4 linked regions of the Homo sapiens genome follow. The protein of the gene in region 1 interacts with the protein of each later gene in a pairwise test. Each region holds a gene or a part of one and is shown in the gene's direction. Other genes may lie near its edges.

Region 1 (7,587 bases):
ATTTAAGCTAGTCAGTCACTGATACCTGCCACTTTAATGTACATAAATTTAGAGACTTTTGCTGAATTAATTAAAAAATATGGAGATGTTAAAGAACTGGGGCCTGAAAGACTGAGAAGACACTCTAGAATGGGGGAGATGTGAGAAAAGCTCCATCTGACTTCTAATTTAGTCTCAGGCCACTGCCTTCACCGCCTGGTGATTTCTGAAAATTCTTCATTAGAGGCATCTTATAACACAGGAGACCCATCTTGTCACCAGATCTGTCACCAGCAGTAAGGACAGGGGACAGGGCAGCTGAGTCTCTGCACTTTTTTGTAATGGAACCTCAACCATCTGGCTCAATGGGTTTCTGGCTTCTCCATGGAGACAGCATTTAGATATTTAAACTTTAATGTGAGTGACTCAGGAATAGTTTTGCAGACAGCATCAAATGCCTCTTCTCACCACTGGAACGAGAAGCCATGAACGGCCGGCACCGAGGCTCTGACCAGGCAGGGAAGGGCATTCATGCCTTTGACTCGTGACCTAAGCCCCAGTATTATGCCATGCATGTGCTAGGTGCCAGGGCCTGGGGATGCTAGGAGGAGCAAGGTGTGCTTCCTGCCCTTGATGAGCTCATAGTCTAATAAGCCCTCTAAGTACTGGGTGTTGGACAGGAGAAGCCCAGGAGTCTGCTGAACCAGGAAGAGGCTGCCAGACTCACAGTTCTGGGAGAAAGGAGGGCAGAGTCCAGGAGAGCTGAGATAATGCCTCCAGGAGCAGGTGACACCCAGTGAACTCCACTGTAGGGCGGAGGCTACTTATCCCCTGCCCATGTCTATACCCACTGGTGAGTGTGTGGGTGGTGGTGGGTGGTATGGGCAGTGGTTAGAGGAGGCCTGGTCAGCACTTTTAGGCCATGGGAGAGGCAGAGTCTCACAGTTCTCCTTGTTCCTACCATTCTGCTTGTGTCTTACAGTTCCTAACCCTCTATTCTTGGGCCTTCTACAGGGCCACTCCTTTCTAACAAATGAAAGCAAGAGTCAGGCCCCCAAGGAGAAGGAGCTGTGAGCCAGTTCCTCATCTCACTGCCAGATGATTCCTTTCCAAAAGGGAAAGGTACCCAGGAAAACTGTGGCTGGGAAAGCTCTGAGAATTAGGACTCAAGTGACAAGGGAGGGGACAGAAGAGCTCTTCATGGTGTTTGCCAAGTCTGAGTACAAAGATCACAGGGCAAAGAGTAAGAAAGAATCTGACTAGGACATTTTGGCAAGGTCCAAGGAGAAACTAGAGGGTGGACGAGTGACGGATTTAGGCAGAAAAGGCTGGTGAGTGGGGAATAGATGAGGCAGGAAGAGCAAGGCTAAGGAACCCAAGAGAGCCAAAATGGTCCATGACAGAGGGAAGAGCATCCCATCCCAATGCAAGGTGGGTAGGTTTCGATGGCAACGCATCCATCGCCTTCTCAGTAATTAACCAGCCTCTGTGTACATAAAGACATAATTATAGGCCAAACAACTCCTTTGATGTAAGAGTATAGAACGTCTGGGGGGAAAGGGGCAAATAAAAGAAAGAACAATCTTGCTTTAATATACAAACAAGGTCCATGGAAAGGTATTGCCAAACAAGCAAATAAGCCAAACAAACAAATGAACAGAGTGTTGGGAAAGCAGGACCCAGGCCGACTGGGCACCCAAGATATCCCGGGCCCTCTGAGAGCATTCTAGCTGACTTCATTGGGCATTTCTGCTTTTCTTTCAAAGAGTTCACATGTGTTCTCATCAGAATGGCTGTATTCACATCCCCTACCTGTTCTATGCAGAAATTCTCAGCATTTCCAAAGGGGCCTGTTTACTTCTGGAATCAAAACCCCAAAGAAAGGGGGGGTTGCAAAGGGTTTGAATGGCTCCTCCTGGGAAGCAAATCTAATCGGGAATGGAGCTGAGCTTGTAACCCAGCATCCTGGATGCCTGTCCTGTGATATAACCCCTGAAACACCACTCTTTCTGTTGGGGCCAACTTTATTAGAGAAATCTGTTAATTGGGGAACGGAGCGGGAGAAGGGAGAGAGCAATGGGATGTTAATATGATTTAACACTTGATGGGCTCTGAAAACAAATAAGGAGGGGGCTTCGGGCTTTAGCTTGGCACATTCGTCGTTCCACATACGTGTTACCAAAATGAATATATGCAACTAAACTATATGCGAGACTCTGGGGGCACAGTAACACAGACTTTGTGAAACAAAAAGGCATTTCTCCTGCTTCCACTGTGTCTCTTGTGGTGCCATTGTCTGATGCTAAGAACTCACATAATAACAAAAAACAATGCCCCTATGATGGGGGGAAAACTTGATTTGGCACCAGCCGTGGTGTTTTCCATGGGAATGATGGTGGGGGCTGTGGCCGACTGTGGGAATAGTGCAAATCAGCACTTTTTTGTAGATTTTCTTCAAGCCATTGTTTATTTTGGCTTTGGTCAGATCCGTGGCCCAGCTTGAAGATTCCCACTGGGCTTTCTGAAACTCGCAGACCTATGAGAGATGGAACAGGGATAAATAAATAATTACAAAACACCCTTCCCCCACCATGGCACTCATGCATGCGTGTGCCTGTCTTGGTGGTGCATGTATGTTGCAGTACTATACATCTGACCCATGCCACCAATGGGCAATTAAAGAGAAAGCAAGGTTTTCTCTGGGCTTAGCTGGTTCATTGTCTCAGTACCATCTTTCATTTGGGGCAAGAGAGATCAGAGCTGTTTCACACAAGGGCCAGTTTTTGCAAAATGGCATTGGAGAAAGCTTGTTTGAAACTGTGCATACATGAGGTCTTCCTAACATTTTTAGATGTTTACAGGCATTTCAACACGAATAACTCAGGTTGTGGTTCTCACAGAAGCAAAAAATCAGTAATTGTTCTAATAATGGAAGATAAACTTTTTTTTTTTTTTTTTTTGAGACGGAGTCTGGCTCTGTCGCCCAGGCTGGAGTGCAGTGGCGCTATCTCGGCTCACTACAAGCTCCGCCTCCCGGGTTCACGCCATTCTCCTGCCTCAGCCTCCGGAGTAGCTGGGATTACAGGCATGCGCCACCACGCCCGGCTAATTTTGTATTTTTGGTAGAGACAGCGTTTCTCTATGTTGGTCAGGCTGGTCGCGAACTCCCAACCTCAGGTGATCTGCCCGCTTTGGCCTCCCAAAGTGCTGGGATTACAGGCGTGAGCCACTGCGTCCGGCCATCAAGAGTTTTTATGACAATGTGTATGAAGCTGCCTTTGAGTAGGGTGGCTGCATCGCACACCTCCAGGGGGCAGCATTGTCTTTGTCCTCTATATAAATGGTTCCCCTGGAGGAAAACTCCAGGTGACCTTGCAAAGTAACCATATTTAGATGGGCTTGTCATAGAGATATTTTCCAAGGAAGTGCAGAAGAGTCTTGTTCACTACATCTTGTTCCTTTCTTAGATACAAGTTACATCAGAATAGGGGACTCAGGCTCTTGCCTGGGTCTGGATTGGAAGAAAAAGAGCTTACCATGGGCCAGAGTGTGCTAAGTCAGATACAATACACAAGCATCTTATCACACATTTCAATGATGTGGAAACTTAGGCCAAGAGAGGTTAAGGGACTTGTCCAAGCTCACACAGTCTGTATGCAGCAGAGCTGGGATTTGAACCCTTTCCTATGGCACCCTAGAGCAGCCTTCAATCATCCCCTGACACCTCCAGTACTTCCCAGGGCTGGAAAGCATCCATGATTGCGGACAGCAGTGGCAGTGAAACAATGTCAGCTGGGGTAGGGGTTTTCAGAGGCAAAAGGTGGAATTCAGCTGGGGAGGGGGGTGGTTCCTGAGCTGCCACTTCTGCCTCTCAAATTAAAGGGAGCCAGGTGTGGAGGCATCCTGGTGTGAGCTTTGCACAGCTGAACCAAGGCTGGGCAGAGGAGTGTGGAGAGGGATGCTGACATCTCCTCCCACTTCTGGAAAATAACTTTGCATTTGAAGGGAGAAAGGCATGAGTAAATCTGTAACTCGGATTTGGACGGCCTGGGATTTCATTTGACTGTGTGAAGGCACACACAGGTGCCTCGCAAGTGTGTGCGTGATTACGTATGTATGTGTGTCTGTGAGTAGGAGTGTTTGTGTTGGGGGTGGGGGGATCTTCTGGTTACACACTGGTTCCCTTCTTCCCATTTGGATTGGGGAGCTTTTATTTATTTATTTTTAAGTCATAGCAGCCACCATGTATGGGGACCTAACTATGTGCCAGGCATTGTGCTGGACACTTTCTGAGGCATTATTTTTCTGTGAAAAAAGTAGTTTGTTTTTATGCAGGTGCACCCAGAGACATCAGGTATTTTTTTCCATTCCGGTTAAAAGACAGTGTTCTACTCTGTGGTAAGCCTTGGGGAGAGGCAGGGAAGCCTGCGGGGACGGGCAGGGGCGGTCCCTGCCTCGCTCGCTAGTCTCCACCTTTTATTTTGACCGGTCCGATGGCGACAGGCTCGCACTAGGACCCAGGCGCCAGAGTGCCTCCGTCTGTCCTGTAGGTTCATTCAATCTCCCATACACACAGACTCACAGCGAGACCGACACACACTCCCATACACTCACACACACAACTGCAGGCAGCGAGGCTCGGGAAGTCAGGCCGGCTTTTCGCCCCGGCGCCTTCTCTGCTCCAGCCGGCCGGGTCTCCCTGGGGGCCCGGAGCTCGGCCGGGCCGCGCAGCCCCGTTAGAGGACGAGCTCGGCGGACCCCCGCTCCTCCATGGGCAAACGCGGGCGGCCGCGCAAGGAGGCGCGCTGCGAGGGCGCGGGGCTGGCCCCCGCCGCGCCCCCGGCTGTGCCCCCCGCCGTGGCCGCGCCCCAGCCCCCGGCCCTGCCCGAGGACCCCGCTGGGGCCAAGCCCAGGTGCCCCTTCTCAGACATTTTCAACACCAGCGAGAACTCGATGGAGAAGCACATCAACACTTTTCTGCAGAACGTGCAGATTCTGCTCGAGGCCGCCAGCTACCTGGAGCAGATCGAGAAAGAAAACAAAAGTAAGTTTGGGGGCCCCTGCTCTTCCTCGGCGCCCGGTTCTTTCTTTCTCGCCCACTTGGGCGACCCCTGTTGCGAGCTCGGCCCGTCCCCCCCCCGCCCAACATACACATCCAGCCCTTGGCAGTAAAGCCGATGACACCGGAGAAAGGACACGCACGCACAAAGCTGCTAAAGATGTAACAAAGACGGGCGAGGGGGAGAGGGGCCTGTCGGTGCGTCGGTCTGTCCTCTCCGGCGGGCTGGGGCTGGGAGGATGGCCCAGCGGAGGAGCGGGGGAGTGTTGTTGTTTGCTGACAACTGAGCCGAGAGCTCATCTCTTTGAGGTCGCTTTTCTTCCTTTTTTTTTTTTTTTTTTCCGGAGCCTTCTCAGGCAGACAAGTGTTGTTTTTCTGTTGCTCGTTCCTGGGTGGGGTGGGGATTAGAAGCCGAAAGTTGGAAACCATAGGCAGAGCTCAGAGGTTCCAGAAAGAAAACACACAGACACACACTACAACAATAACAACCAAACAGCTCTCCACGGCGTGGGCTCGGCTCTGTCTCTCTCTCTCCCTCCTACTTCGCCTTTTTCCTTCCCTCTAGCAGCAGGACTGGGCTCAGGCCATCACGTCTACGGACACAGTCCCCCTGCACGTCCGTTGCCGTGGGGTGCCACCGCCGCCCCCCCCCCCCCAAAGAAGGAGGCCGGCGGGGCCAAGCAACGCCAGCAGCTCGCCCCGGACACGCCGTCCTGAGCCCGGGAAACTTGGCCGTGGGGACGCGGCTAGAAGGAAACTTTGGGATCTTTGAGAAACAATAGTTGGGGAAGAAGGTGTGGGCTGTTCTGTGCTTTTTCTTTATTTTCCGGGAGACGGCTCTTGAGTGAGCGCACAGGGCAAGCAAGGCAAACGCCTTCCTGGTCGATTTCTACTCCCCCCACCCGCCCACCCCCAGATTCACGTGGATAGTAGTGCGTGGGTGGGGGTGTGCTGGGAACCCCACCCTGGCCTGGCTTCTTTTTTGTATTTATTTGTTTCATTTTTGCCCCTACCAGCCAGGTCACCCAGCTTTCCCCAGGCAGTCGACTCAGCGCCCTAACGGGGGCACGCGTGTGCAGCGTATCCAGCACCGTCCTCAGAATAATAGCTGTGAAAAGGAGGAAGGGAACTAGGCAGACAGACCGACAGATAGGGGGAAACCGGGATGTTTAATGTGTCCGAACAAGTAGGAAGATCAATGAGGCGCGAGTGTGTGTGTGTACGTGTGCGCGTGTGTGTGTGAGAGAGAGAGAAAGAAAGAAGAAAGGTCCCGATTGCAACGTGTCAGATCTTGCAACCTTCCCCCCACCCAACACAACAACCCTCAGACACAAAAACACCATTGCTGACTGATACCCCAGGTCTTCAGGGTTAAAGGAACCGTGTGTTGGCAGCGCAATTGTGCAGACGCTGTAAGGCCAAAACGAGGATTTGTGTTGTGAGGTCGGTGGTGCGTTCTTTTCTTTCTCTTCTCGCCTGTTTTCCCGGAGTGCCTGGGTTGCGAGAAAGGCGCATCGCAGGCTGTGCAGCCGAATCGCTTCGCAATTATTCATGCTGGTCGGAGGGGGATGGGGCGCGGGAAGCTATGTGTGCATTTGTCTGGAGGGTAGTTTCTGAAAAGCCAGAGCTGGTGGGGAGCTGGGTGAAGACGTGGTTTTGTTTGGTGTGTTTGCTTTTGTTGCAGGGGGGAGGGGCGCGATTTCTTCAGCTACCCCCATCCCCGGCTACCAGTTCTCTGGAGTCTGTCCCGTGGCGTTGGCTCTGACTAGGGGTACACCCCATGAGGGCACGTTGGCAGTGTGTGGCAAACCTGGCTTGCCCCCCTACCCCAGCCACCCCCCCTCACCAGCGAGGTGTATGGAGGAGGCGGTCGGAGATTCCTCAGCGTCCCGCCCCCCACTTCGCACCCGCAGACAATCGGAGACCTCCCCCTGCCCCACCCCCCACCCCCCACCCCGCCGCCCTGGCCGCCGCCACCTCGTTGTTTACCCCGTGCCGGGGCTCCGGCGTGGCCACCAGTCACGTAAGCAGAGAGCCGGGCGCGCCGGGCTTGGGCTGCCCCGCGCGGGGCGGGCCCGTGGCGGCGTAACCGGGCTCCAGAGGCTGGTGAAGCCGAGGGGCTTCCTCCCAGCCCATCGCCCGAGGCGTCCGCCCTGCAAATCTGCCAGCCCCCGAGAGGGGTTTGGAACCTTAGCACCCAAGTCTAAGTCAACTTCATGTGCGTAATAAGTCCCTCGGCCCCGCAGCCCCCCTCCTCCGGCCGGCTCCCGGCGGGAGTATTTTTAGCTCTCTTGCTTCTTTTCGCCGCTGCTGTTTGGCTCTAAATGACGTGATGCCAACGGCCCCCAGATTTCCCCGAGAGCTTGGGGCGCCGCGCCGTGCCCAGTTTGGCTGCAGAGACCCCGCTCCAGGCCCTCGCCCCGTCCCCAACAGCTCGAACAGGCTGGGGTGACCTCCGGCAAACTCCGTGCGACCATCCGCCAGGCCCTCTGTTATCCCCCTTGCAAAGAGAAGCGGTCCACGGGGGCCACTTTATCCCACCCCCTCTC
Region 2 (7,285 bases), on another chromosome or scaffold:
TTAGCTTCATTTTTTTTCCACTTTCTATATTTAGGCAGAAAATCTTATCTATTTTGTTCATAGCTGTAGCCCCAATGTCTGCATATAGTAGGTGCTCAATAAATCTTTATTCAATGAATAATTGACTCTTTCCCCAATTCACATGTGAGCTCTTTGAGGGCAGGAAACTCTTATTTATTGCTAAAATAAGTTATTAAATAAAGGTTTAAAATAGTACCTGGTAATCCGTAGGAGTAAGTTAGGAAGAGGAGGTAAGTTAAATCAGTAGGAGGCTGGCGCACCAGCATCCCCCACCCCAAAGTTAGTAGTTGCTATTATCATCATCATGGTCATCATCAATGTCATTTCCTGTGTCCTGGGTACTAGGCAGACACAAAATGGTGCCTATTGAACAGCTGAATGAATGAGAACCTCGAGCCTGCATCTGCCTTCCTGGCAGGCCTCAGGGGACGTCCATCCTTTTAGCTATACGTAGGGCTGGGCCCAGCAGGCAGAGCTGGGGGGCAGGGAGCTGGAAGAGCATTGCACAAGGTGGTACTTTATTGAGCACTTACTTTGTGCCAGGCCCTGGGAGCATAAAGATGATTTTGACCTGGCCTCAGTCCTTGAAGAACTCAGAATCCTAGGGAGAGAGACATGTGTGTGTTAAACATTTCATGCCTGAGTGTGGAAGGATGAGAACAAGTGGGCCAGGCAAAGGAAGGGAAGAGCGCCTGCACCTCTTCCTTTTCAGGCCTCAGTCTCCCACTCTGCTCCTTGAAAGTGCTGGATCAGGTGACTTTCAAGGTCCCTCTGGCCTCTGATAGTCTGCAACTCCATGGTCTTTGGCCGCCGGCCCTTGAGCTGTCCTATGGTTTCTGCTGCCCTCTGCTGGAGCCTCTTGGTGACACTGAAGTCCTAAAAAGCCTCCTTGAACCTTTCATTCTTCCTTTTCTTCCCCAAAGCCAACAGCACCATCCAGTCGCCCACCCACACACACCTCTCATCCCTTAAAACACCAATTAAACATCTCTTGCTTGTCTCTGACATCAAAGTTTCCCAGACAAAAGTATTCTCAGTTATACATTTTAGACAATCTGAAACTGAATACGTACATGATTTGTAACTGTTATGACCCAGCAATCCCATTCCTAAGTAGCAATCAAGAGAAATGAAAACATATATATCCACATGAGACTTGTACAAGAATATCCATAGTAGTTTCACTCATAATAGTCCCAAACCAGAAAAGACCAAGGGCCCATCAGCTGGGGTGGGGATAAGACAAGGTTGGTCCATACAGTGGAATTCTACTCATGGTGAGAAGGAGTGGACTTTTCAAAAGCTCTGTGGTAAGTGAAAGAAGCTAAAGGAAAGCAAGCACATATTGTGCAGTTCCATTTATATGGAAATTCTAGAACAAATAAACCTACAGTGACAGAAAGCACATGGGGGATTTCTTTCTTTCTTTTCTTTTTTTTTTTTTTTTTTTTGAGACAGAGTCTCACTCTGTCGCCCAGGCTGGAGTGCAATAGTGCGATCTCGGCTCACTGCAACCTTCACCTCCCAGGTTCAAGTGATCCTCCTGCCTCAGCCTCCTGAGTAGCTGAGATTACAGGCACCCGCCACCATGCCCGGCTAATTTTTGTATTTTCGGTAGAGACAGGGTTTCACCATGTTGGCCAGACTGGTCTTGAACTCCCGACCTCTGCCTGCCTCGGCCTCCCAAAGCGCTGGGATTACTGGCATGAGCCACCACGCCCGGCCTAACAGATCAGAGATTTCACAGGGTTTGGGGTGGGGAGTGAAAATGGAATTTGGAGACATTATCTGCAAAGGGGAGCAGGCAAACTTTGGAGGAGATGGAAATTTAAAAACTTTTTTTTTTATTGGGATGGTGGTTAAACAGATGCACACACATACAAAAAACTCATCGAGCTAGTGTTATGCTAAGTGCAATAAGCCGGACACAAAAGTACAAGTATTCATGATTTCACTTACTTGAGGTATCTAAAACAGACAAATTTATAGAGACAGAAAGTGGAGTAGTGGTTACCAGGGGCTGGGGGCAGGAGGAATGGAAGTTACTGTTTAATGGGTACAGAGTTGCAGTTTGGGATGCTGAAAAAGTTCTGACCTTTTCATCGGAAAAGGAGATGAATAACACCGATGCTTCCACGCAAGTGATGTACTTAATGCCACTGAACTGTACACTTGAAAATGTTTCGAATGATACATTTCATAGTATGTATATTTTACCCCAATTTAAAAAAGTCTAAAAAACAAAGCTCACCAAATTGTATGCTCTAAGTAGGTACATTTTTTATTGTATGTCAATTATACCTCAATACAGTTGAGTTTTAAAAGTCTCCCAGGAGGGATGATACTGCTTTGCTCTCCTCACCTAAGCTTACTCTGTGGCTCTCTGTGTGAGGAGGTGGAGTGTGAGCCCTGGAATTGGACGCACCACAGACCTCGGTTCAAATCTTGCTTGTAGGCGGGGCGCCGTGGCTCAGGTCTGTAATCCCAACACTTTGGGAGGCCGAGGCAGGCGGATCGCCTGAGCCCAGGAAGTCGAGACCAGCCTGGACAAGATGGTGAAACCCCATCTCTACTAAAAATACAAAAATTAGCCTGACGTGTGGGCGCGCGCCTGTAATCCCAGCTACTCAGGAGGCTGAGGCGGGAGAATCGCTTGAACCCGGGAGGCAGAGGTTGCAGTGAACTGAGATCGTGCGTGGGAGACAGAGCAAGACTCCGTCTCAAAACCAAACCAAATAGTGCTTCTGCCACTAATTAGTGTCCTAAGCCGCTCAGGACGTCGGTTTCGCCATATGTAAAAGGACATAATGATGAAACCAATCTCGAGTGAAGGATTCAATGAGGCAATACGCCTGAAGGGCTGACCACGGCGAAAGCTAATGTTCATTGCTATCAGGCGGGGAAAGCTAATGTTCATTGCTATCAGGCGGGGAAGGGCTCCCAGGTCTGGTCCCCCGGCTGTGGGGCTCTGGGAAGCGGATGCTAGCCGCGAGGTGGCGCTCGCACCGGACTCGGTGGGCTCAGGAGTTGCTTACGCGCTGGTGGGTGTGGGCCGGAGGCGGGGCGGGCAGAGGCGGAGAATGCTTCCCAGGGTCACACCCTCCCGCGGTGTGACTTTTTTCTTTTCTTTTTTTTTTCTTTCTTTTTTTTAAGATAGGGTCTCGCTCTGTCGCCCAGGCTGGAGTGGAGTGGCAGGATCTTGGCTCACTGCAGTCTCGACCTCCTAGGCTCAAGCGATCCTTCCTCTTCAGCCTCCCCAGTAAACCGAGACCACAGGTGCGCGCCACTACACCTGGCGCGTTTTTTTTTTTTTTTTTTTTTTGACGGAGCTGTGCTCTGTCGCCCAAGCTGGAGTGCAGTGGCACGATCTCGGCTCACTGCCACCTTCGTCTCCTGGGTTCAAGCGATTCTCCTGCCTCAGCCTCCCCCAGTAGCTGGGATTACAGGCGCCCACCACCACGCCCGGCAATTTTTTTTGTACTCTTCGTAGAGACGGAGTTTCACCGTGTTGGCCAGGCTGGTCTCTAACTCCTGACCTCAAATGATCCGCCCTCCTTGGCCTCCCAAAGTGCTGGGATTACAGGCCTGAGCCACGGCGCCCGGCCCTAATTTTTGTATTTTTAGTAGAGACAGGATTTCGCCATGTTGGCCAGGCTGGTCTCCAAACTCTGGGCTCCACGATCGGCCGGCCTCGGCCTTCCAAAGTGCTGGGATTATAGGCATGAGCCACCGCGCCCGGCCTTCCGCAGTGCGATTAGGGGCGGCAGGAGGAGAGGGGGGCCTCGCCCTGTCAGCCTCTCCGAGACTAGTGGGATGCGGTGCCCGGGAGGGGTCTTAATAAGATCACGGTTGCTGGGCAGCACTGGACAGTGCCCGACGTAGGCGATCTCATTGATTCCTTCCCACAACCCCACTTTGCAGATAGGAAAGCTGAGGCACGAGAGGGTAAGTAACCCAGGCCGCACAACGAGGGGAAGCTAGGGAGGGACTGGGGCCCTGGGCCCCTGCGCTGACCTCCCCTCCTCATCCCCTTCTTATCCCCCTCTGCTCCTGGCCCAGGCCGCGCAGAGTCGGCCTCTGTGATCCCACCCAGAATACAGTTTTCCCTCCCGGGCGCCTGGATCTCCCCTCCCCCGGCTCCTGTTTCCTTGTCAAAACTTCCTGCCTTGGCGAGGGCCCGAGTTCCCACCCCCTTCCTGCCCCCCGCCCCTCGGCGCCCCTCCCGGCCCTGCGATCAGCAGCGTCCCGCCTCCCCGCCGCTCCCGCAGTCAGGCTGGGGCTCGAAGTGGGGACCCTCGCCCCGTCCTCGGCTGTCCAGTCCTCCTCCTCGCAGACCCCGGCGGTTCCTACCCCAGGCCGCAGGGGAGACGGGGCCCCAAGGCAGGTGAGTGACTGCGCGCCCCCTGGCAGGGGAGGCCCGGTGGTGCGGCCCCGGAGACCACCCTGCCCCGGGGAAAGGGCTTGCGGTCCCTGAGGTCCCCCTCCTCGACTGGAGTCTGAGGCCCCAGACCCAGGAGTGTAGAAAAGAGGGACTGATGGAGAGAGACGTGAAGGAGGGGAAGGGGACAGTGGAGGGGGCCAGAGAGGATGGGTTGGGGGTTCCCTTCCGTAATGAACATGTAAATGAGATGAAATGCTAGCGAGGTTGTTCCCTAAGCCCCTGGTCCCCGGACTTTGTGAGTCAGGGGCAGCCTGGCTCACTGCCCCCTCCCAGGGCTGGGAAGAGAAGACTGGGTGCTGTCCTTGGCTTGCAAGGGAAGTGTAGCCACAAGAGCATCGACACTGGAGCCAAGACTGCCTAAGTGCCACCCTCCACTCTGCAGCTTACTGTCTGTGGGGTCTTGGTCAAGAGGCCTGACCTCTGTGCCTCAGTTTCTCATTTCTAAAGGAGAATAATATAGGGCCTACCTCATGGGTTGTGAGGCTTAAGTGAGCAAAAACGTGTCTCCTGCTTTGAATGACGCTAGATAAACAGATTATCAGTGTCATCTCTCTGTCCAGCGGCAGGAATGTTTGAGGGAGGATGTAGGGGAAGGACCCAGGTTTGCAGGTCCCTGGCTCTCACATCTTTGCCAGTTATGAGGACTGGGGGTTCAGCTTGAGGTCCCGGGCAACTGGATCCTCAGAAAACTTGGCAGGCTGATGATCTGAAGTTGTGCTAAGGGCCAGGTGGGTGTGTGGGGGGTCCAGGAGCCCAGGCCCCAGCAAGGCAACCCTTCACCCCCACCCCCGTCTCCAGCCTCCAGTAGCTGCTCTCCACTCCCCTGTTCTGGCCTGTTATGAGTGGCCTCTCCTGGGGCTGGGCTGTGACCCTAGTCCCCGGGGACAGGAACAGCTTGTGCTGGCCTGAGGTTCCCAGGCTCAGCCAGGGCTCAGCTCGGGCAGGATTGGGCCGGGTGTCAGCTCTCAACCCTGGCCTAAGCTGGCCTTGTGCTAGGGGGACGGTTGGAGACGGGGGAGCTCATCTCTGAACCCCACTCAAAACCAGCTCATGGTATAGGGCCTGTTGTGTGTGCTTGTGAGCCAGTCATAAGCCAGGGTGTGGGCGCAGCCCTCCTATCTCCTGTGTCTCCTCCCTGCTGTGTGGCCTCTCCCACTCTTGAGGCCTCCGAAGGCCCACCCACCATGTTCCCCACTGCAGGTGGGGCTGCCATCTCTAGGAGCTGGGTTGGCCAGACTCACTTCTCTGCCTTCCTCTCTCTCCACTGGAGGATGAAGCTGAGAGTTGGCATCTGTTCCTCCACCCTCTGTCCCCCCTCAACATCTCCTATCAGACTCTCCCAGAAGAGGAAACTCACGCTCCAGGCAGCCTCATCCACCAGTCGGAAACCTGGAGAGAGATAGAAGGTCATGGGGCTGCTGTGTGCCTCCCCGCACCCGACACACACTGCTGGGGAGGAGGCTGAGGCCAGGTGGAGCCTCCACCACGGCATTCCCCAAGCCTCTCCTCTGAGGAGCCTTGGGAGCCTTGAGAAAGAGGCCTCCCAGGACTCATGGGGGACCCTGGGGTGCCATCCTAGCTTTGGGGAGGATCTTGGCTTCTGTCATCTAACCTACAGGGGAGAAGCCAGAAGGAAGAGGCAGAGAAGACAGGGAAGGAGAGAGAGAAACACAAAGACAGAGATAGAGACAGATATAAATACGGAAACAGAGGCTGACAGATGCAGAGACACAGCAGAGGCACAGACTCATTACAACAAAATGCCCGGAGGGAGAAAAGCAGGCCTAGAAAAATAGAGCAGAGACCTAGGGATAGAACAAAAAGGAGGCGGAGACAGAGGGAGAGGAGGAGAAAGTCAGAAGACCAAAGAGAAACTGTGAGGTTAGAAGGCAGCACACTGGAAACACCAGGCGAGGTGGCTCACGCCGGTAATCCCAGCATTTTGGGAGGCCAAGGTATGAGGATCTCTGGAGGCCAGGAGTTCAAGACCGGCCTGGTCAACATAATGAGATTGCATCCCTACAATTTTTTTTTTTAATTAGCTTGGCATGGTGGTGCCCGCCCATGGGCCCATCTACTCAAGAGGCTGAGGTGGGAGGATCACTTGAGCCCAGGAGGTTGAGGCTGCAGTGAGCCATGATCACGCCACTGCATTCCAGCCTGGGCACACAGCGAAGCCCTGTCTCAAAACAAAACAAAAAGAAAGCAGCACAGGCTTTGGAATGACATAGACCTGGCCCAAATCCCTGCTCCGGCTTCAGTTGCCTGTGTGGCCTAGGACAAATCACTGAACTTTTCTGGGATATTTCTTCATAAAATGGGAGGCATAATAGCACTTACTTTATAGGCTTGCTGGGAGAACTAAAAGACAGGATCTAGCCACAGCACACATTTAACGAGGCGCAGTAATTAGTATCCCAGTACCTGGGAGGTAACCCAGGGGTTACCTCCCCACACTGCTTTGTGCTTTGAAGCAGATTTGAATCCTGCTCTTGCCCCTGGCAGCCAGACAGCCCTTGGCAAGGCATTTTACCTGAGACCCTCCACTGTGCTGCCTACCAAATGGGGATGACAATCACCAGCACCTTCCAGGGTGGCGGCGAGGGTTGGGACTGGCACTGGCGACAGCCTGCGGGAGGGGTTGCGATTGATGTGTGAATCAGGATCCCTGCAGGTGAGTGGGCCCTGGGGCGTAGCCCGCTCACTGCTGGTGGGTGCTCATGCCCTCCCACTTTTGCCCTCCGTCCTACCCCCATGAATTGGCACCTGGGGCCCAGTCCCTCTGTGTAGCGGGAGATGTGTGCAGTGGACAGTGAGGGGGTG
Region 3 (7,414 bases), on another chromosome or scaffold:
TTAATCCCAAAAGACAAGATGCTAGGTTCCCTAGCATCTCAGAGCCCCAGGCCACCCCCTCTACTTACCACTTTCTCTGGACAGTTGACCCTTGGTGTCCGAATTTGGACCTCAGGGGCTGGCGGGGGCACCTGCCAGGACTTAGGGCCGGCTCCTGAAGTGTTGAGGCTCCCATCATCAGCACTGGCGGCCTCACCCTCACCCTCGCTGCGGCTGCCCACGCTGGCCTGTGCCCCTACTGCCCGGTCCTCAGCCCCTTCAGGATTGGAGCGAGTGCGGGGCCGAGGCTCTGCCGAGTGCTCCTCTTCCTCCTCCTCCTCTTCAGTGGGGCTGCTGGGCTCTGCCACTTCCATGGCTCCTGTGTGGCTAGATGGAACACGGACAGGGGAAGCCAGAATCCTCCCCTTGGAGTTTTAAAAACATTTGGTTACGGTCGGGCACGGTGGCTCATGCCTGTAATCCCAGCACTTTGGGAGGCCGAGGCAGGTGGATCACCTGAGGTTGGAAGTTCGAGACCAGCCTGACCAACATGGAGAAACCCCGTCTCAACTAAAAATACAAAATTAGCCGGGCGTGGTGGCGCATGCGGATAATCCCAGCTACTCGGGAGGCTGAGGCAGGAGAATCGCTTGAACCCGGGAGGGGAGGCTGCGGTGAGCCGAGATCCCGCCACTGCACTCCATCCTGGGCAAAAAGAGCGAAACTCCGTCTCAAAAAAAAAAAAAAAAAAAAGATTGGTTACTAAGAAGGAAGAGGGGCGATGAGCCGCTTACTGATGATGAGTCACTCCTCTTAGGGAGTCACTTTCCTCAGCTGCAGAATGGCTGCCTTTTACACCTCTCAGCCGAGCAGCCACTCCGACATAAGATAACAGTCCCCCCTCTTTTTTCCTCTTTTTTTTTTTAACGTAGTGCTAGCCCCATGCCCCTACTCGGCCAGTGAGCACATCCCAGCTCTCTGGCCACTGAAAATGGCTCAGGGATGGGCACATGACCCAAATCAGGCCATTGAGTGGCAGCTCTGCAACTTCTAGCAGTGTCATCAAGGAAAAGAGACTCTCATTAGAGTTGCAGAGCTGGTAGAATAAAGTTGAGAGCTGTGAGGGGCCCCTTTTGCCTCGGTAAAAAGCGAAATGGTCTCCACCGAGAAAACTGCAGATCGAATTCTGACCACCTGGACCCAGCTCCTGTTAGACCCAATCTATAAGCCACCAACTTCCTTTTCTTCCTTAAGCCAGATTGAGTAGGGTTTTCTGTTACCTAAAACTGAAAATGTCTTGGTGAATAAGGGAATAATAACCTCTAGGACACCCTCGTCCCTAGCGGGTGTCTGCATGAGGGAGAAGCAAAATATTAGTACTGTGGTTCCCCTTGGAGAGAAACAGGACGCGAATGGAGCAGTTTGTCTATCTGGGAAATAGGCACGGGCTTCCCAAGATGGTCTTTGAGCGCCTTGCAGTCCCCACACCTCTAAGAAAAACAAGGCTTTAGCGGCAGCAAGAAGGATGGAGGCTACACTGCAGGAGAAACCAGAAATAAAGGCGGAAGCCCCAGGAAAGGCGAGGAGCTGGATCTCTTGGGGCAAAGGGAGCTGGGCCCCTAGGAACGGGCCCCACACGCTTTCACCACCCACCTTCGGCTCACCGTAGCCTGAACCTCCTTCTAAATCAGCCGCCGACTCACTAGGAAGCCGCCATCTTTACAGCCGGAAGTTGTACGGCGCAGCCCCGACGCCTCCTGGGAAATGTAGTTCAGCGGGCTGCAGAACAAGCAGAGACAGAAACTGGTTGAGGCTAGAAAGAACTTGGAAACTGATAGGCTGAAACTGGGTTGGGGGTGGGGTTTGGAGTGAGAGCTGCCTGGAGCTGGGTGCGGCGGGACCTGGAATGTGATTGGCTACACTGGAGCAAAGTATGAAATGTGATTGGATTAAAAAAATTAGTGAATTTTTGTTTTTGGCCGAATCAGACTACAATAGTCAGTGCTTCTACCGTGATAGGCTGAAACGTGGAATAGAGGTGGAGCTTGCAATGTGATAGGCTAAGAGGGACGGAGAAGGCCGATTTAGGGAAAGAGGAGGAGCTGATTGGTGATTGGTGGAGCTGGCCTGAGCCTCCATGTGGGGCAGGTATTCCCATGTGGGTGTGGCCTGAGCATCCAGGGCCCTTCCCAATTACTTAATTCTTGTTCCTTATTTTACATATATTTGCATGAATCAAAAAATACTTACTCTGGTCTTATTGGGTCACTGTAGGTGGAGCGAAGCTAAGTCGGGCCTATTTCAAGCCTACCTCTTTTTTCATGGCTTTTTTTTTTCTTATTTTTAGAGACAGGGTATCGCTCTGTCGCCCAAACTAGACTGCAGTCACGCGATCATGGCTAGTCACTACAGCCAAGCGATCGCTCAAGTAGCTGGGACTACAGGCGAGGACCACCGCATCAGACTACCCTAGGCTTCCTTCCTTTTTTTTTTATTTTTATTTTTTAGATGGAGTCTCACTCTGTCGCCCAGGCTGCCGTTGTCTTCTTAGTGCACACTTCCCCCTTAGCCCCAGAAGTATTTATTTATTTATTTTTATTTTTTTGAGACAAGAGTCTTGCTCTGTCGCCCAGGCTGGAGTGCAGTGGCTCAATCTCGGCTCACTGCAACCTCCACCTCCAGGGATCGAGCAATTCTCCTGCCTCAGCCTCCCAAGTAGCTGGGATTACAGGCATGCACCACCAGGCCCGGCTGAGATATATATAGTATTTTTAGTAGAGCTGGGTTTTTGTTGTGTTTTTTTTTTTCGTTTTTGTTTTTGTTTTTTTGAGATGGAGTCTCGCTGTGTCACCTAGAGCGGCTCTTTGAAGGCTCTAAGCCTTTGCCCAGGAAGTTCCTTCTGCCTGGAATGCTGTTCCTCCTGTTGCTTTTCTGGCAAGTTCTTTATGCTTCAAAGCTCACCTTACACAGCCCCTCCGGCTATTCTCGAATTAGAGCCTGGCCAATGTGGCCGGCTTCTTTGACCCTCAAAAAAAAAAAAACAACTGAGGAGTTGGGGGCAGTGGCTCACACCTATAATCCCAGCATTTTGGGAGGCTGAGGTGGGTGGATCACGAGGTCAGGAGTTAGAGATCAGCCTGGCCAATATGGTGAAACCCCGTCTCTACTAAAAATACAAAAAATTAGCTGGGTGTGGTGGCGCGCACCTATAATCACAGCTACTCAGAAGGCTGAGGCAGAAGAATTGCTTGAACCCAGGAGGTGGAGGTTGCAGTGAGCCGAGATCGCACCACTGCACTCCAGCCTGCGTGGCAGAACAAGATTCCATCTAATAAAATAAAATAAATAAATAAACTGAGGCTTCAAGTGGCTCTTAAATGTTTCTGGGGCTGGTGGGGTCGGTGGCTCATGCCTGTAATCCCAACACTTTGGGAGGCTGAGGTGAGTGGATCACCTGAGGTCAGGAGTTTAAGACCAGCCTCGCCAACATGGGAAAAACCCATCCCTAGCCGGGTGCGGTGGCTCACGCCTGTAATCCCAGCACTTTGGGAGGCCGAGGCTGGCAGATCACTTGAGGTCAGGAGTTCGAGACCAGCCTGGTCAGCATGGTGAAACCCTGTCTCTACTAAAAATACAAAAATTAGCTGGGCATTGTGGTGGGCACTTGTAATCCCAGCTACTCGGGAGGCTGAGGCAGGAGAATTTCTTGAACCCAGGAGGTGGAGGTTGCAATGAGCCAAGGTTGCGCCACTGCACTCTAGCCTAGGCGACAGAGCAAGACTCCATCTCAAAAAAAAGAGAACTGTCAGCCCACAATGAAGAGACAGGCAGAGAAGAAAAGTTCACAGGGGAGCCAAATAAAAACCATCAGCTCACGGGAACATTCTAGCTCTTTTTTTTTCTTTCTTTTTGAGACAGGGTCTTGCCTTATTACCCAGAATGGAGTGCAGTGACGTGACCACGGCTCACTGCAGCCTCAACTTCCAGGTGTTAAGCAATCCTCCCACCTCAGCCTCCTGAGTAGCTGGGACTACAAGCGTACGCCACTACTCCTGGCTAATTTTTATATTTTTTGTAAAGACGGGGGTCTCGCCATGTTGCCCAGGCTTGTCTTAAACTCTTGGACTCAAGCGATCTGTCTTCCTCAGCTTCCCAGAGTGCTGGGATTACAGGTGTGAGCCATGGTGCTCGGCCCATTCTAGCTCTTGAGAAATAAAATCCAAGAGTCAGAGCTAGAAGGGCCATGAGTTTGGAGGCTGAGAAGAGGAGGGGCTGAAACCTTGGGAGTCAGGTATGTGTGCCCCGCTAGGGCTGCAGGAAGCCGCTGTCCCCGAGAAGGAAACAACACAATAACAAGTCACGTGACCAGGGGAGGGGGTTTCCTGTTTCCCAGCCCCTCCCAGGCCAGGCTTGGCCAGCCCAGGCCTGAACAGGCAGTGGTCAGAGTGACCCCAACAGAGTGTCCCGGGACTCAGGCCTCTGATCAAGTTACCCCCAGAGGATCAGAGAGGTAGAGAGAGCTGAACCTCTCATTTAGGAGGGCCGGGGAGGAGAGGGAATTCTTGAGATCGCATTCCCAGGCTCAAATAGAGGAGGAAAGTGGACAAAGACGTAGTGAAGGTAAAGAAGGCAGAGAAGAAGGGGGAGATCAGGACAACCTTCTTAGGTAGTGAGCTCCCTGTCCAGGGAGGCATTCAAATCTGCCCAATCAACATTGATAACAAAATCCCTTCCTGAGGGGTAGTCAGTGCCCCATTTCACAGCAGAGGAAATTGAGGTTGTCCTTTGTCCAGGACAACAAAGGCAAGAGCTCATGGCAGGCTGTGGTTTTAGGGGTTGACGAAGGAGAAGCATTCAGAGGGCACTGGCTTCTGGACAGCAATGAGTGCCCGGGCCACGCGGCCCCGAAGCCGGCGAGGGAGGCATGCTCCACCCGTAAGTGTCACCCTCTCCCCTCCACACCCAGATCCTGGGGACCCCAAGGTCCTGTCCTGCCTGGCTCAGAGCAGGGCCCCGGGGGTCATTTGCAGGGTGAACTGGATCCCGTGGCTGAGAGTTCAGAGGAGGTCGAGGCAGCCAGTGGGAGCTCCAAGCCCAGCTTTGCCCCACCTCCGGTGAGCTCCGGGCTGGAGCAGCTGGGCCCCATGGAGGAGGTCAGTGGCCAAGGCCTAGGAAGCAGGTAAGACCCGCTTGGTCTGTGCCCTTCACTCCAGTCCAGACGCATCTTTGCCATCCACAGATCTGCTGATGTGCCTGCTCTGCTCACACACCTACCATAGCTCCCTATTGCCTTCAGCCTGACTTTCTTTTTTTTTTGAGTCTTGCTGTGTCACCCAGGCTGTAGTGCAGTGCAGTGGCACAATCTCGGCTCACAGCAACCCCTGCCTCCCGGTTCAAGCGGGAGCCTCAGCTTCCTGAGTAGTTGGGATTACAGGTGTGCGCCACCACATCCGGCTAAGTTTTGCATTTTTAGTGAGACAGGCCACATTAGCCAGGCTGGTCTTGAACTCCTGCCCTTAAGTGATCCCCCAACTTTGGCCTCCAAAAGTGCTGGGATTACAAGTGTAAGCCGCCGCCCCAGAAGACCCTATTTCCAGAAACTTCTGTCTCTCACCTTCAGGCCTTTCCCAGTGCCCGTCACAGTCCAACTTCACTCTGTTTCTCAGCTCCAGGTCTCCCCTCCAACTTCTTCACCACCTCTATCTAGCCTCTTCCTTGAATTCACAGCCTCCCAGTCTCACCCTGGGATGCCAGTCCCAGAACACGCAGCTCTTGCCAACTCCCTGCTCCGCTCACACCTCCCCAAGACCATGAAGTTTAAGCCCTCAGAATTCCCTGCCCAGGGCCGAGCATGGTGGCTCATGCCTATAATCCCAGCACTTTGGGAGGCCGAGTTGGGCGGATCACCTGAGGTCAGGAGTTTGACACCAGCCTAGCCAACATGGTGAAACCCTGTCTCTACTAAAAATACAAAAATTAGCCAGGCGTGGTGGTGGGAGCCTGTAATCCCAGCTACTTGGGGGACCGAGGCAGGAGAATCACTTGAACCCAGGAGGTGGAGGTTGCAGTGAGCCGAGATCGCGCCACTGCACTCCAGGCTGGGCAACAGAGTGAGACTCCGTCTCAAAAAATAAAAAAGAATTCCTTGCCCAGCATGGAGTGACTCAAGTGCCTGAGTTGGTGTCCACAGGACTGACAAGAAGATGGATGGGGGCTCTGGCAGGGAACTGGCCTCAGCCCCCGAAGTGCCCCACAAACCTGCAGTGGAAGCCCACCAAGCCCCAGAAGCAGCCCTACAGTACAAGGAGACTGTGCCCCCTGGGAATGGGGCCCCCGATGTGTTTCAGACCCTCCAGCACACTCTGAGCTCCCTGGAGGCAGCGGCTGCAGCCTGGCGCCACCAGCCCCCCAGCCATTCTGGGCCGATGGAGTTCGAAGGCACAAGCGAAGGGGGAGCAGGTTCCCTTGGGAAGCAGGAAGGGGCAGGGAGCTGCCAGCGAGAGGCAGCTCGCCTGGCCGAGAGGAATGCCTGGCTCCGGCTGGCCCTGAGTAGCCGAGAGGATGAGCTGGTCCGCACGCAGGCCTCCCTGGAGGCCATCCGAGCTGAGAAGGAGACGCTGCAGAAAGAGGTGAGTGGGGCCATCCTGAGTCCCATGTGGCTCTCTGTCTGAGGGAGGAGGTGGGCCTGATGTAGGCAATATTCATTCATTTGTTCATTCAAAAAACCTTTTAAGGCTGGGTGTGGTGGCTGACACCTATAATCCCAGCACTTTGGGAGGTGGAGGCAGGAGGATCCTTTGAGGCCAGGAGTTCAAGACCAGCCTCAGCAACACAGCAAGACTGCCACCTCTGCAAAAAAATTAAAAATCAGCCAGGTTGGCCAGGCACAGTGGCTCACACCTGTAATCCCAGCACTTTGGGAGGCTGAGGTGGGTGGATCACAAAGTCAGGAGTTCAAGGCCAGCTTGGCCAACATGGTCAAACCCCATCTCTACTAAAAATACAAAAAAAAATTAGCCGGGTGCGGTGGCATAGGCCTGTAATCCCAGCTACTCAGGAGGCTGAAGCAGGAGAATCACTTGAACCCGGGTGATGGAGATGGCAGTCAGCTGAGATCGTGCCAATGCACTCCAACCTGGGGGACAGAGTGAGACTCTGTCTCAAAAAAAAAAAAAAAAAAATCAGCCAGGTTGGCTGGGTGCAGTGGCTCATGCCTGTAATCTACACCAGCACTTTGGGAGGCCGAGGTGGGTGGCTCCCTTGAGGCCAGGAGTTAGAGACCAGCCTGGCCAACATGGTGAAACCTTGTCTTTACTAAAAATACAAAAATTAGCCAGGTGTGGTGGCACGTGCCTGCAATCCCAGCTACTCTGGAGGCTGAGGCAGGAGAATTGCTTGACACAATTCTGCAGCTACCAGGGAGGCTAAGGCACGA
Region 4 (7,043 bases), on another chromosome or scaffold:
TTTTTCTCCTGCTTTAAGCACTAAACCAAGAGTTCTATAAATGCAATAAGCAAAAAAGTGAAAAATGTACTCAGAAGACTATACTGGATCAGTTAGTGTAGAATACTGTTATATTAATTTTTCATTGTATTAGGGTTCTCTAGAGGGATGGAACTAATGGAATATATATGTATGTATATATATTCCAACCCAAAGTGTCTTGGTGGCAATCTTAATATATATATATTGGCAATCTTTATATATATATAAAGGAGAGTTTGTTAAGTATTAATTCACATGATCACAAGGTCCCACAATAGGCTGTCTGCAGGCTGAGGAGCAAGGAGAGCCAGTCTGAGTTCCAAAACCGAAGAACTTGGGGTTCGATATTTGAGGGCAGGAAACATCCAGCACGGGAAAAAGATGTAGGCTGGGAGGCTAGGCCAGTCTCGCTTTTTCATGTTTTTCTGCCTGCTTTATATTTGCTGACAGATGATCAAATGGTGTCCATCCAGATTAAGGGTGGATCTGCCTTCCCCAGCCCACTGACTCAAATGTTAATCTCCTTTGGCAACACCTTCACAGACACACCCAAGATCAATATTTTGTATCCTTCAATTCAATCAAGTTGACACACTCAGTTTTAACCACCACAAATCTACCCCTTGTCAACTTGAACCCGTACACATCTCCTGAGATCACACATAATCTTCAAATAAAGACAATAATTAGGTCATAATTACACCTGATGTAGTACAACTATTCTTCATACATCCGGAAACACACTAGTCCCCAACTGAAACACTCTTACATAAAGTTAACGATACTTAAATGCTGATGTGAAGTCAATAAATCTTATGTCACATGATAAAGGAGAAAGGAAATAAAATGAAGATATTTTCTTAGTACAAGTGTGTGCAAGCACAGACATGTTTTTAATAAAAGAAGGAGGAAATACTGAGGACAATTACAGTCCTCATTTCTGCAGCTGGTCACATGGTAGTAGCTGGTATTGATGACTACCTTCTTCTACCCATTTTGTATTCCTTTTGCCTTCAGCAAACACCTCAGCAGGTTGTGTTTTTTTTTTTCCTGATGGAGAGGCCCAAACCATTTGTAGTCCCGCCTGGATTGGGCTGTTGTAGTTGCCCATTGACCTTAATCACAGGGCATGGTAATACTAAGAGACGCCCTAATGGATCTCCTGTATTCCATGAATACTCTTTCTTACCTCCGTTCTGGAGTAGTAGACTGATTTCATCTTGATAGCCTGGGTCTTGATAGCCTTGATGTCCCAGCCAACACTGTAACGCCTTTCTTAGCCTGTTTACTTAAAGGTAGGAACCCAAAGTGTCCTGGTGGCAATCTTAACTACCAGTTTAATGGAATTGTTGTTGTGTCTTCTGATGGCAGCGTTCCTCCCTCTGGAACTAAGACCTCTAGGCCAGCAGAACTTAATGTTACGGGAACAGGAAGCAAACATTTTGCTAGTGGATCACTAGGGGTGATGGTGAGTGGTACCACTTCCATTTCCACCCCTTGATTCCTGGACCTGTGAATCCTGGCTATGGGAGAAACAGTACCACATATTGGACGCTGATTCAGAGCATACACAGCCTTCTTGAGAACTTTGCCCCAACCCTGCAAAGTATTCTCACCTAGTTGGCATTGTAATTGTGACTGCAAAAGGCCATTCCACCGTTCTGCTTCAGGATGTTGGGGAACATGGTAAGACCAGTGAATTCCATGAGCATGAGCCCACTGCTGCACTTCTTTAGCCATAAAGTGAATGCCTTGGTCAGAGGCAATGCTGTGTGGAATACCATGACAGTGGATAAGGCATTCCATGAGTCCGCGGATGGTAGTCTTGGCAGAACCATTGCATGCAGGATAGGCAAACCCATATCCAGAGTAAGTGTTTATTCCAGTAAGGACAAACATCTGCCCTTTTCACAATGGAAGAAGTCCAACATAATCAACCTGCCACCAAGTAGCTGGCTGATCACCCTGAGGAATAGTGCCATATCAAAGGCGCAGTGTTGGTTTCTGCTGCTGGCAAATTGGGCACTCTGCGGTGGCAGTAGCCAGGTCAGCTTTCCACCGGCCCATCTTGTTTTCTGCACTGGGAAGGTGGGGCATGAGCACAAATGTTAGGACCTGAAAGGTGGTGAACTCTGCCTGGGCAGGGCAAAGCCAGAGGAAACTCTGGTGGAGGTCCGTAGCAGTCCTGATGTGCAAATCGGTCATCCAACCTGGGTGTAGGGGCGAAAGACTAATTGAACCATCTAGTAGCTGGTTCCCTCCAAAGTTTCCCTCGGGATAGCTGGCACTCTCGCAAAAACCCCACTCTTGGTACCAATTTACTGTATTAGTCCATTTTCACGCTGCTGATAAAGATATCCCCGAGACCGGGAAGAAAAGAGGTTTAATTGGACTTACAGTTCCATATGGCTGGGGAGGCCTCAGAATTATGGTGGGAGGCAAAAGGCACTTCTTTCATGGTGGTGGCAAGAGAAAATTAGGAAGAAGCAAAAGCAGAACCCCTGAGAAACCCATCAGATCTCATGAGACTTATTCACTCTCATGAGAATAGCACAGGAAAGACTGGCCCCCATGATACAGTTACCCCACTGGGTCCCTCCCACAACACATGGGAATTCTGGGAGATACAATTCAAGTTGAGATTTGGGTGGGGACACTACCAAACCATATCATTCATCAAAAGGTGTTGGTGGGGTAGAGGGTAGTTAGGATGATCCATGATCTCCATCATGATGATGATGGTATTGATGATGTAAGTCACTGAAAATATTTGGTGTTATAAGAATAATTTCTTCCTGATTGTCAGTTTTGAGTTGTTTTGCTATTAGGAGGCAAAGTAGGGGGGCATATACCCACTTAAAATATTTTAATTCTGGCTAGTGGAAATGACAGTAATGCCTTCTTCATAATTAAAATGTCACTCTGAAATGGTCCCAAATTAAAACTTCTTCCTTTGTTGTTAAGAAGGATCTCTTCTTGGTGTGTTCTGCAAGATTCTGATCACCTTTTTTTTTTTTTTTTTTTTTTTTTTTTTGAGATGGAGTATTGCTTTGTCATCCAGGCTGGAGTGCAGGGTGCAATCTCGGTTCACTGCAAGCTCCACCTCCCGGGTTCACGCCATTCTTCTGCCTCAGCCTCCTGAGTAGCTGGGACTACAGGCACCTACCGCCATGCCCGGCTAATTTTTGTATTTTTAGTAGAGATGGGCTTTCACCTTGTTAGCCAGAATGGTCTGGATCGCCTGACCTCATGATCCACCCGCCTCGGCCTCCCAAAGTGCTGGGATTACAGGTGTGAGCCACCACACCCGGCCGATTCTGATCATCTTTTATACATATGCTATTTTTGTCTATCACTTTAGGAATCATCACAGATCAAGGTCATCCTTTTGGTTTTTGTGATAGCGCTATACCTCAGTCAGCTTACTAGCTCATCTCCACTCAGAGATGAAGAAGCATAGGCAGCAAGTTAGTGCCTATACATAATATATATGGAAACCAAATTCAGGGTTGATTCTTTCTTTCTTTCTCCCTTCCTTTCTTTCTTTCTTTCTCTTTCTTTCTTTCTTTCTTTCTTTCTTTCTTTCTTTCTTTCTTTCTTTCTTTCTCTCTCTTTCTCTCTTCCTCTCTCTTTCCCTCTCTCTTTCTGTCTTTCTTTCTTCTCACTCTGTTGCTTAGTACAGTGGCGCAGTCTCGGCTCACTGCAACCTCCACCTCTTGGGTTCGAGTGATTCTTGTGCCTCAGCCTCCCAGGTAGCTGGGATTACAGGCATGCGCTATGAAGCCCGGCTAATTTTTGTATTTTTAGAAAAGATGGCGTTTCACCGTGTTGGCCAGGCTGGTCTCAAACTCCTAACCACAAGTGATCTGCCCACCTCAGCCTCCCAAAGTGCTGGGATTACAGGCATCAGCCACCACTTCCGGCCCGGGGATCTTTCTGTTTCAGTTGTGGGCATCACTCTGAAAATCACACTTGCTAGAAGTGAGCATTTATATCTCTTCTCCACTGTAAATAAGTGCCTCTTAGTGACATGAGTGGAAAGACAAGAAGAATTGCAGTTCCTTCATTTTCTGTCTTAGCTCCCTGAGATGTATATGCTGTGCCTAAATTTGTGTTATAGTTTTCTCCTTTGATTTGACATTCCTTGATAGGCAGAGAGCACTTTTCTGTGCTCATATGTCACATCTCGCATCTTTTTCCCTTATAGAAAAACTCTTGTGTCTCCCATTTACCTTTCTATGAGGTCAGAGATTTAGATACTTTCCTAGACAATCAACTGGAGTATTAACAAATTCAAGGAGTTCTCGCCATCCCATTACTGGGTATATACCCAAAGAATTATAAATCGTGCTGCTATAAAGACACATGCACACGTATGTTTATTGCGGCACTATTCACAATAGCAAAGACTTGGAACCAACCCAAATGTCCATCAATGATAGACTGGATTAAGAAAATGTGGCACATATACACCATGGAATACTATTCAGCCATAAAAAAGGATGAGTTCATGTCCTTTGTAGGGACATGGATGAAGCTGGAAACCATCATTCTCAGCAAACTATTGCAAGGACAAAAAACTAAACACCGCATGTTCTCACTCATAGGTGGGAATTGAACAATGAGAACACTTGGACACAGGAAGGGGAACATCACAAACCGGGGCCTGTCGTGGGGTGGTGGGACGGGGGAGGGATAGCATTAGGAGATGTACCTAATGTAAATGACGAGTTAATGGGTGCAGCACACCAACATGGCACATATATACATATGTAACAAACCTGCATGTTGTGCACGTGTACCCTAGAACTTAAAGTATAATAATAATAATAATAAAAATTCAAGGAGTTCTTATCTCTGTAGTTTAAATAATAAGCGACTTAGACTAATGACAACAAAAAGCCAGCCATGTGAATACCAAATTTACTAGTTCTGTGAGGATATTTTTTTCTCTTTCTCTTTCTGCCTCAAAGAATCTGCTTTGCTTCCCCTGGCATCATGATTTAGTTTTCAACCCGTCAGAGTCTTCCTGCTAGTGCTGGTACTTTCCTACTTGAGAAAGTCCACGGAATACCTTCGAGACCTCTGTCCTCCTGATGGCTTCTATTTCATTTGTTATATAGGGACCCAGAGGTCCTTCATCATTTTCAAACACATCAACAGATATTTATAGCAAGGCCACAATTAATAAAATGTTTCCCAGAATATATGTGTGTGTTACATTTAGAGGAAACAGAAGTAGTATTGACTTGTTTCTATCACCAGAGGTCTATTTAGTAACTATATTTTGTGGAAAATATCGATATATTTTATCCATTCAACAGACATGATTTGAGAGCATACCACGGAGACCCAACCCTGCCAGTGTGGCAGGTGGTATAATAGAAGAAAATAGCAAACTTGGTGTATCTGTCTTTGCGCACATGTATGTATGTGAGGGGCACTAAGGATGACTTTACAGAGGTTGGAACTTTTGAGTAGAGTTGCCAAGATAGGGAGAGTTCACTAGGAAAACAGAAGGGAAGTTGATTTTTTTTTTTTTTTGAAATGGAGTCTTGCTGTGTCGCCCAGGCTGGAGTGCAGTGGTACAATCTCGGCTCACTGCAACCTCCGCCTCCTGGGTTCAAGTGATTCTTCTGCCTCAGCCTTCCAAGTAGCTGGGATTACAGGTGCGCGCCACCATGCCCAGCTAATTTTTGTATTTTTAGTAGAGACAGGGTTTCACCATATTGGCCGGGCTGGTCTTGAACTCCTTACCTCATGATCTGCCTGCCTCGGCCTTCCAAAGTGCTGGAATTACAGGTGTGAGCCACTGCTCCTGGCCCGGAAGTTGATATTCAAACAGGAGCAGCATATGCAAAGACAGTGAGCTCTGAGAGAGTAGATGGATCCAGACTCCTATTGCTGATAGCGTCCTGCAGGATTGGGCTTCAATGTGACTAACCTACAATTGCCTCCAGGTGCTCCACCCACTGAGTCCTTGTGTCTCTGCTGAGGTCCTTGGAGAGTTACTGGAGAGGGCTCTGTGTCAGATGACCTTGAGGAGGCTCTGATTTAGCCTTTTGTAAAATGCAAAGAGTTGAGGTCTTCTCCACGCAAGAGCTCGCTGATGTCAATGAGGTATTGAGGATGGGGCCATCTCCTATTTCTGTGGCCAGTACTGAGTTTTGTTATCCTTCCTTTAGGTAAGGAGTGCCAATGGACCGATGCCTGCCTGTCTCATCCCTGTGCAAATGGAAGTACCTGTACCACTGTGGCCAACCAGTTCTCCTGCAAATGCCTCACAGGCTTCACAGGGCAGAAGTGTGAGACTGATGTCAATGAGTGTGACATTCCAGGACACTGCCAGCATGGTGGCACCTGCCTCAACCTGCCTGGTTCCTACCAGTGCCAGTGCCTTCAGGGCTTCACAGGCCAGTACTGTGACAGCCTGTATGTGCCCTGTGCACCCTCGCCTTGTGTCAATGGAGGCACCTGTCGGCAGACTGGTGACTTCACTTTTGAGTGCAACTGCCTTCCAGGTAAGGAGCTCCCTAGTGTCCCAGGATTAGGGGACAAACCCCTAGCACAGGAGGTAGTGGGTGTGGCTCAATTGCTTTTTTTAGGAAGCGCAAGGAAAAAGGGAAGTGAGAATTTTGTGTGGGGTGGGTTGCTAGTGAGGGAGGAGTTTTATGGGCCCACTGTGGTCCATAAACTGAGCAGGGGATAATTTAGCATGTCAGGGTTTATGATGATGAGTGGCTAGAAAATTGTTTATTGTCCCTTTTGTAGAAACAGTGAGAAGAGGAACAGAGCTCTGGGAAAGAGACAGGGAAGTCTGGAATGGAAAAGAACACGATGAGAATTAGACACTGGAAAATATGTATGTGTGGTTAATAAAGTGCTTTAAACTGAATTGACATTAACAGTGGGTGATCAACTTTACTATGTGCTTGTGCTTTTGCTTTTGATGGAGTAATTCATTGTTTTCTTATCCACCTAAATGCACCCAGCTGCCCTTGATTTTCTCTGGGCTACTGGCC

Evidence for each region.
Region 2: the proteins of MXI1 (region 1) and PEAR1 interact in binary tests that used the Homo sapiens proteins (3 or more experiments, as listed by UniProt).
Region 3: the proteins of MXI1 (region 1) and USHBP1 interact in binary tests that used the Homo sapiens proteins (3 or more experiments, as listed by UniProt).
Region 4: the proteins of MXI1 (region 1) and NOTCH2NLA interact in binary tests that used the Homo sapiens proteins (3 or more experiments, as listed by UniProt).

What each region holds. Positions count from the first base shown.
Region 1 is NC_000010.11:110,203,060-110,210,646, forward strand, and holds the start of MXI1 (max-interacting protein 1), read left to right. Parts: upstream 1-4,545; 5' UTR 4,546-4,749; coding exon 4,750-5,023; intron 5,024-7,171; exon of another isoform or gene 7,172-7,256; intron 7,257-7,587. UniProt on the Homo sapiens protein: Transcriptional repressor. MXI1 binds with MAX to form a sequence-specific DNA-binding protein complex which recognizes the core sequence 5'-CAC[GA]TG-3'. MXI1 thus antagonizes MYC transcriptional activity by competing for MAX.
Region 2 is NC_000001.11:156,889,433-156,896,717, forward strand, and holds the start of PEAR1 (platelet endothelial aggregation receptor 1 isoform 1 precursor), read left to right. Parts: upstream 1-4,285; 5' UTR 4,286-4,405; intron 4,406-7,285.
Region 3 is NC_000019.10:17,261,746-17,269,159, reverse strand, and holds the start of USHBP1 (harmonin-binding protein USHBP1), read left to right. Parts: upstream 1-4,414; 5' UTR 4,415-4,489; exon of another isoform or gene 4,490-4,599; intron 4,600-4,812; 5' UTR 4,813-4,860; coding exon 4,861-4,914; intron 4,915-5,009; coding exon 5,010-5,158; intron 5,159-6,169; coding exon 6,170-6,608; intron 6,609-7,414. Other genes in the region: BABAM1 (BRISC and BRCA1-A complex member 1), read right to left, coding at 69-353.
Region 4 is NC_000001.11:146,155,979-146,163,021, reverse strand, and holds part of NOTCH2NLA (notch homolog 2 N-terminal-like protein A), read left to right. Parts: intron 1-6,206; coding exon 6,207-6,542; coding exon of another isoform or gene 6,543-6,730; exon of another isoform or gene 6,731-6,792; coding exon 6,793-6,869; 3' UTR 6,870-7,043.